2 separate regions of the Homo sapiens genome follow, and region 1 is linked to region 2. Evidence: fine-mapped expression QTL. A gene starts in region 2. The other region holds a variant in brackets. All regions are shown on one strand. Distances are between the middles of the regions. Region 1 overlaps CASQ1 (calsequestrin 1). Region 2 holds the start of DCAF8-DT (DCAF8 divergent transcript).

Region 1 (4,249 bases), 64 kb after region 2:
AACTCCTAGTTAGCAGAGAGGAGGAGAGCTAGCTATGCTAGGAAGTAGAGTCGGGGGTCAACCCGGGATGAGGACAGGAAACTCACATCAGTAACATTGACGACTCCTATTTGTGGGGCTGACAAGTCGATGTCAAACGTCTTCTCCCAGTATGGGACCAGCTGTAGAGAGATCAAAATACAGCAACTTAATAGATACTAGGGAGCACATGAATCCAGGAGGATGAGTGTGAGGGTCAGCCCAGGGATGGAGAGGGGACAGTGCGAACTGGCAGTGGATGGGGACAGGTCCACCTGTGAGGGCATCAAGGCAAGGGTAGAACTAAACAACAAAAGAGGAGAAATCCTAAAGGGAGAGAATCGGGAGGGTCAGCTGGGTGCACTGGCCCCTCTTTTCTGAGGAAAACTGGATAGGAAACCCTGTTCTGATCCTGGATCAGATCCTTGTGTTCAAGGTCAAGTCACTTCTCTCTGGCCCTCAGATCTTACATTTCTAAAATAAGGCAAGTATACCTGGTAAGTGCCAATGTTTCTCACGTTTCTCTTTGTTCTTTCAGTTACTCATTCAACAGCGAGTGCTAGGTGTTGGGAATGTAGCTGAGAACAAAATCATCTCCTGAAACAGGGAATCTCTGTGCTATGATTCTATGATTGAGTGTGTATACCCATGTGCAGGACTATTGTGCCTCACAACATTGGTTTTCTTTAGGAGTCAGCCCTAGCACCTGAGCTACCCATCCAGCCTCTGCTCTGGGAATGTGTGTGATGTCCGTCCTGTTTCCCCTTGCTCAGGATGCCCTCCATGCCAACAGTGCCCTTAAGCATGCAACACGCATACCCTCCCAGGGCCCCCCAGCTAGGAGGTGGGGATGGGACCTCTGAAACAAAGCCCTCACTAAGAAGATGTCACAGTCCAAGGCCCCACCTTAAGATAGCAGTGCCTGAGCTGTGCCTCTTACCAGGGGGAAGTCATCAGGGTCAATCCAGATGATGCTAAGATCTGGGTTTTCAGTGTTATCTTGGGCCACAGCCTTGAGAGTCTCTAAGAACTCGAAACCATCTTGGAGGGAACACAAGTACAAGGTATGAGGTGTGTAGAGAGGAAAGGGACCCAGGTGAAACAGGAGTGCAGAGCTACCTCCCTGCTCCCCAAGCTTCACATGTCTAGCCCTAGGCTGTTTGCAAACTCCCAGGAAAGCCTCCTAGTGAGGCCCATGCTCCAATAAACACACCCACCTCCCCCTGCCTTCCCTCCAGTCCAACCCGGTATTCCTCCCTCACCAGGATCAGCTTCCTCTGCGAAGGCCACAATGTGGATTCCATCCATATCATCCTCCTGTCAGGGGGTAAGAAGGAGAACAGGGTTTTGGAGAAGACCTTACTATACTCCCTGAAGTTGAGGAGCCCAGAACAGATCCTAGATGTTCATTGAACCTCAATTTTGTGGAAATCCAGCTTCAGGACCAGATATATTCTTTCGTTTTTTGGGGTTTGTTTTTTTTTGTTTTTGAGACAGAGTTTCACTCTGTCCCCCAGGGTAGAGTGCAATGGCGCGATCTCGGCTCACTGCAACCTCCGCCTCCCGGGTTCAAGCGATTCTCCTGCCTCAGCCTCCTGAGTAGCTGGGATTACAGCCATGCGCCACCACACCTGGCTAATTTTGTATTTTTAGTACAACATTGTTTCACCTTGTTGATCGGGCTGGTCTCAAACTCCTGACCTCAGATGATCTGCCTGCCTCAGCCTCCCAAAGTGCTGGGATTACAGGCGTGAGCCACTGCGCCTGGCCATATATATTCTTGTGATGGTGACCTTTTTCCAAGTGACACTCCTTTCAGCTCCAAGGCCCCACACTTCCTCTGATAATCCCTTTATCCCCAGGCTTGAGGCTCTTCCCTTGTCATCTTCAATTATGTCTGTCTCCCATTTCCTCACACATTCTTCAGTGTAGAAATCTTTCAGTTGCTGCTAGTGCACTGTTTTTTCTTTTTTCTTTTTTTTTGAGACGGAGTCTCACTCTGTCCCCCAGGCTGGTGTGCAGTGGCGGATCACTGCAAGCTCCGCCTCCTGGGTTCAAGCCATTCTCCTGCCTCAGCCTCCCAAGTAGCTGGGACTACAGGCGCCCGCCACCACACCCTGCTATTTTTTTTGTATTTTCAGTAGAGATGGGGTTTCACTGTGTTAGCCAGGATGGTCTCGATCTCCTGACCTCGTGATCCACCC[A/G]CCTTGGCCTCCCAAAGTGCTGGGATTACAGGCATGAGCCACCACACCCAGCTGGTCAGTGCACTGTTTTTTCTAAAAATGGGCCTGAGGAGCAGTAGGGTGGGGTTTTTCTAGGACTTGAGTCTTCTGGCACCCATGCTTCCCTGAGGGCTTGACCCTGGCCAGGGGCACTCACCCAGGTCTCATACATACTCTCCGGCTTCAGTTTCCTCAGGGTTGATCTAGAAGAGACAGACAGAGTGTCATTACTCAGTGGGTTAGAAGGATGCCCCCTCCAGAGGGTCCTGTAGCAAAGGCTGCCTCTAGGTCAGGCCCAGGGCACAGACAGCTTGTAGCCTACAACAAAGCCATCTGGCAAGGCCTCAACTCTGGGCACCAGGCCCGGCTCATTGCATGGTTAAAGCGGTGGGAGAGGGGAGGGTGGGCAAAGGGACTGGAAGAGAGACTGGGGGAGAAAGGCAAGAACTGGACATCAGGATATTCATTAATTTATTCATTCATTCACTCACTCACTATGATTGAGTGCCCGATATGTTCTAAGCACTATGCTAGGTGCTGGGTACATACAGTTGAACCAGGCAAGCATGTTCCTGCCTTGATGAAGGGAGCCAGTAGTATGGGAGAGTAAGTACTGTATATACTGCAAGGGAGCTTGCAGTGATCCACCACTGCACGCTAGCCTGGGGGACAGAGTGATTGGATATTTCCAGCTGTGGACTACTATGAAGGAAGGGAATTATGTGTGAGTGCCCGGCAGGATTATTCAACCTCAGCACTATTGCCATTTGGAGCCAGATAATTCTTTGTAGTAGGGGGCTGTCCTGCGCACTGTAGAATGTTTAGCAGTATCCCTGGGCTCTAGCCACTAAATACTAGTAGCACTCTGCACAACCAAAAATGTGTCTAGACATTGCCAAACATCCTTTGGAGGGCAAAAACCTATGCCCACCTCGCCACGCCTTCCCACCTTGTAGAGAACCATTGGTGTACGATATTGTATTAGAAAGAACATGGGGCCAGGCGCAGTGGCTCATGCCTGTAATCCCAGCACTTTGGGAGACCGAGGCAGGCGCATCACTTGAGGTCAGGAGTTTGAGACCAGCCAGGCCAACGTGGTGAAACCCCATCTCTACTAAAAATACAAAAATTAGCCAGGTGTGGTGGCGTGCCTGTAATTCCAGCTACCTGGGAGGCTGAGGAAGGAGAATCGCTTGAACCTGGGAGGCGGAGGCTGCAGTGAGCCAAGATGGCGCCACTGTGCTCCAGCCTAGGGGATAGAGTAAGACTCGGTCTCGGAAGAAAAAAAAAAAAAGAAGAAGAAGAAAAAAAGAACAAACATGGGACACATCAGGGTTAAAATCAGGGTTAAAAGCTCTGACACTTATTACCTGTAGAAACTTTCACTGAGGTTAAAAGGACTTAATATAATCATAGAGATGGAAAGTACCTTGCAGTTCCTGCCCCACCACAGGCAGTCAACACTCATTTGTTGACAGAGATTATTTAAGTCTCAATCAACCTCACACTGAATTATACACACTTATGAAGGACCCTCTCGGTGTAGGGCTCAGGGCTAAGTAGTGGGGTATAAAATATTGTGCAAAATTGTCAGTGTATCAGAGAGCACTGGTGCCCAAAGTGTATTCATCTCCAGGCAAGATTGGCTTCCCGGTTGGCTAAGCTTTCCCCAGCCCATCTCACACAGTGTGTTCTAGCCCAAGGAGGAGCCGACCCCGCTGAGAGGGTTGCCCTTGGTCCCCACCTCCTGTGCTCCTCCACGAAGTTGACAATCTCCTCTTCGCTATTGGGCTTGTCTGGGATGGTCACAGGCTCTTCCATGAAGGCCTCGTAGAAATCAATCTCATTCAGCTTCAGGGTCAGCTTCTTTGCCACCTTTGGGAGAGGGGGTAGGAGGGGAGTGGAGCAGGAGACACAGGGTCATGTCGAGAAGCAGTATAATGGGGGAACAAATATTAGGAAGGGAGTCAGAAAGCCGGGATCCTTGTCACTGCCACTGTGACACCTGA
Region 2 (4,249 bases):
GAGCAGGAATTCAATAGTTGTTGACTGAATGAATGAAAGAATGAATAGGACGGTGGGGCATTAAATAGCTACTTTGTGCTGTAGCCCTCTTCTAGGTGTTGAGATTACAAAGATGATAAAAACACAGTCCTTGCCCTCAAGAATTTATATTCTAGTAGTATAGCTGGATCACAAACATAATTTTAGATTAAATGTTATAGGTAAAAAATGTTATTAAAAAAACAGTGCAGAGTAAGGGGATAGAGGAGGATGACATGAGGTTCCATTTTAGTTACAATAGTCAAGAGCTGCCTGTGTTAGGAAGTAGGATTTCAATAGACACCTCAAGTCTAGTAAATATCTAGTAGATGGACATTCCAAGAAAAGGAAAAAAACCCTAGGGCTGGGACATGCTTTGACTGGAGTGACAGTAAGGCTAGTGAGGCTAGAGCAGAGCTAGGCAGTGTGGGAGGAGATGAATCAGATAAATAGGCAGGTGCTAGATCAGATCATGTAGGGTCCTCCTTAGAGGCAATTCATTTTTTGATGGCCTCTAAGGCTATCATACTTTTGACTTTTATTATGTGATGGGAATTGGAGGTTTTGAGCAGGGTGGGGACTGGGGAAATAATACGACATTACTTTTTTTTTGAGACGGAGTCTCATTCCATTGCCCAGCCTGGAGTGCAGTGGTGCGATCTCAGCTCACTGCAACCTCCGCCTCCGGGTTCAAGCAATTCTCCTGCCTCAGCCTCCCAAGTAGCTGGGATTGCAGGCGCGCTCCACCATGCCGGGTAATTTTTTTTTTTTTTTGTATTTTTCGTAGAGACGGGTTTCACCATGTTGGCCTGGTTTCAAACGAGTTTCGAACTCCTGACCTCAAGTGATCCGCCCACATCCGCCTCCCAAAGTGCTAGGATTACAGGCATGAGCCACCGCGCCCGGCCAGACCTTACATTTTTAAAAAGCACTCTGGCTGCCTTATGTTTAACTGTAATGGCAATAATGGAAGTAGACAAACGAGGTAAGTTTCTATTGCGGTAGTCTTAAGTAATATGTAATGACTTGGAATAGGAGAGTAGCGGTAGGGGAGGTGAGAAAGGGTCAGATTTTTGCACCCTGGGCTTCTGGTAAGAAAAAAAAAAAAAATACCCCAGCCTGGCAGCTGGGAGTAATCCTCTGCAGGGTTACTGTAGGTGTCATAACGAAACAGAGTACAAAAGTCACCCCACATCACCCGGCCCACTCTTGGGAACCTTTACCCACACCACCTCTCTTCAGAAAAGAGCTTCTGGAATAGCTACACCTCAAGCTACTGAGCCCCTTCTTTAAAAATACGTAAATGGGGACTCTCAGGGGAAAATGGGCCTCGATAGTATAGAAACCACTTAAGGAAACAAAGCCCTGAAAGGAAACGGGGATTTTCAGAAGAAATCCTTGTGGCAATCATTGCTCGTTCCAGTGTTCAAAAACGGCAAAACTGGCCATCATCCAGGAAGTGGCCTGCCAATCCGCTGGAAATTTAGTTTATTTCTATCACAACTCTGGGTAGCCCCTAACTCGCATTTGTTTAGAGTATCACAAGATAAGCAAGCCCGAAGAAACTACAAAAACAACTTTGCCTCTTCGGTAATGCGCAGGCGCCTCTCGCTCTGTTTTCCGTTGGCCTTAAGCCCCGCCCCTTGTGCGTCCTTCGAGGAGGGTTGCGAGCCGTGAGCTCGCGCGACCACTCTTCCCTCAGTCTTCTCGAGCACATCGTCGCAAACGGGGCCGGAAAGCGTGGCAGCGCAGGCGCAAGCGCAGAGAGCGGAGGCGGTGGTGGTGGCGGCCGCTGGCCAGTGTAAGATGGCGGCGGCGTTGGTGGTGGCAGTGGACGGGGCGGCTGGGCCTGGAACAGTCGGAGCAGCCGCTAGCAGAAGGATGACCCAAGACGGGAAGCGGGCTGCTGAGCCTCGCCGATTCCCGTGCTTGTAACTGCCCCAGCCGGACACCCCCCCTCCCTTGACCTACCCGGTCTGTGTCTCGTTCCGGCTCGGCCTGCGCCCCCCCTCGCTTCCCAGCCGGTTTCCCCTAAGGATGGGCCTGACCCGTATCCCAAGCTCTTAGCGCTCAGGTCTTTTCCTTCCGCCGACCCGAAGTCATCGCTGGGAGTACTGGTTGCCCTTTCCTCAGGTCAGCCCTGGTGTTGCCCCCAAGAGCCAGCCGCACAGTTCACAGGGACGCCTTGCTTCGTTGGGTGACCCATGTGTGCGCTCCTATTTCTCCCCTTAGATTGAGGGACACGGCTCGCCCTGCGTCTCCCCGTCACCTCAGGGCCACCGCGCAATGTGTCCCCCTCCCCCATCCCAAGTTCCCAGGCCCAGCACCTTGTACGGAAGGCGGAGGTCCAAGAATTCCGGAGTCGGTTGTTGTCTTGTGGTCTTGTACCCTTTGTAATATAATTATCTTAGTTTACCTCCTCTAACTCCCAAATCTTTTAGGATATCTTAGAACGGTCCCATTTGGTCCCTGTTAGTTGGAAAGCATCTGGTGGCTTGAATTTCTGACTCATGATTGTTACTGGAGTCTCTGTAAACAAACCGGCACTAGCGCTATCACATTCTCTCCGGGATTTCCCCCCCTGCTCTGTGGCTTCTTGTTGAGAGGTTGTTTGGTTATGGTTTAGCGTTGAAAAGATTCAGGTTATCCTTTTAAATGACTTTACGTTTTAGTGGAGCTGGGAGATTACTTGCCTGGCTTCTAATCTTCATGTTGGTTCATTTTATTTCCATATGTGTGTGGGTTATTTGTTCAGTAATTAGAATTAGATAAAGTATTCTGCTTTTAAGTAGTTTTGAGAAGGCCTAAAAATACTAAAGTGTATTCATAAATATTTTTATTATGTTCAGTAGAAGACACACCTTTGCCATGTAAATTTTAACTTTTCTCAGTCCTTCAGTGAATCTACAGACCTATTTTCTCAGGAGCTCAGCCTGGCCTTACTTCAGTGATAAAAGGAGGAAAGGTGAGTGGGAGTTGGAGGCATTAAAATTCTTGAGTTCAAGACAGACTGCGCTGATGCTCAACTGCTGACCACTAAAGTCATAAAATTCCTACCAGTTTCCCAAAGAGCTTGAGTGTTGTTCTTGGCTTTGTTCCAGCTCTGGTTGAATTACTTTTACAAGTTTAATTGTCTGTGGGCTTCTTGTCTTTCTGTCCTAAACTATTGCTGTGTATCTCCAAATGACTTAAGCCTAGAAGTGAATGTGTGCCCCCTGCCCCATGTCTTCTTTTCTTCTTTATTCATTTTCCTTGTATTTTGTCTTTGTGTCGATCATATTTTTTACGTTGTTAAAAACTGGAACTTAGTTTGCCTGAGTTCTGTTCATCCTGTTGTCAAATCAGGTCTCTTCCCCTCTCACAGCTTCGGGTTGTCATCCCTTGGTATTTAGAGGAGAATATTTAGCTGCTTGTGACTAAAAGCTGGGGAGTGATGAGTGATGCTGCCTTTAGTTGGTGTCTGAGTCCAGTCTATTTCAGAATTCCGACTTTTTAGGATATAGTGGGAAATTTTTTGTAAAAAAAAAAAAAAAATAGTGGCTGCTCTTTCTTTTGTAGCTGGTCTGAAGAATTCTTGGTTAGCAGAAGAAACATCCTGGGCATTCAGCAGCATGGGTTGGTGCCAAAAAGGGAGTCAGAACATACTTATAAATGCAGTTTTCGTGAGGCTTTCAGGTTTCTGGTAGCAGAGACTAGAGGCTCATGGCATGTGACAGAAAAGCTAAGTGACTGGAAGGTAGGCCTGGCCAATTCCTAATATCTTTATGATTTGTAGTAGGAAAATATTGAGTGACACTGGTGAGTTTTATTCCATCTGATGACTGAATTAGAAAATGCTCATCATGGACTGGAATAAAATTATTAGTGATGGTGTATATGTGTATCAGTAAGATATAAAGAGAAAAGTACAGTCTTTAGAGATTGGACAGACTTTTAATTTAATTTTAAGGTTTAAATACTAGACTAATATTTCTTAGCCATGTGACCTTGAGCAAGTTACTTAAACTTCTCTGACTCTTAATTTCCACAACTCTAAAAGTGTGATAATACCACTTACCTCCCAGGGTCATTGTTAGTATTATAGGGAATCTATTTAAAGCTCTTAGTAATCTAAGAACACGTGGTACACACTCAAAAAATGTTGTTTTTTGGTTTTTTTTTTTTGCACATCATTGATACAGCTTTGAATAAGTTATACGTTAATTTATGCTTCTTTTACATTTTGCCTTAG

Evidence for each region. PIP is the estimated chance that this variant, and not a neighbour inherited with it, causes the effect.
Region 1: its variant is the best candidate, but not a certain one, in a credible set for the expression of DCAF8-DT in whole blood (INTERVAL, PIP 0.65).

Annotation. Positions count from the first base shown.
Region 1 is chr1:160,195,763-160,200,011 of GRCh38, reverse strand. CASQ1 (calsequestrin 1) reads right to left here. Exons shown (of 11, transcript NM_001231.5): 6 at 3,985-4,115; 7 at 2,398-2,443; 8 at 1,281-1,335; 9 at 959-1,059; 10 at 87-161. Among named protein-coding and RNA genes, the nearest start is that of CASQ1, 7.3 kb to the right of the region's middle. The variant A/G (reference allele first, on the strand shown) is at 2,223.
Region 2 is chr1:160,260,019-160,264,267 of GRCh38, reverse strand. DCAF8-DT (DCAF8 divergent transcript) reads right to left here and starts at 2,519. Exons shown (of 2, transcript NR_147618.1): 1 at 2,346-2,519; 2 at 1,490-1,867. It overlaps DCAF8 (DDB1 and CUL4 associated factor 8), which reads left to right and starts at 1,719. Exons shown (of 14, transcript NM_015726.4): 1 at 1,719-1,819; 2 at 2,910-2,983. RefSeq lists enhancers at 1,635-1,904, 2,535-2,664, 1,836-2,784.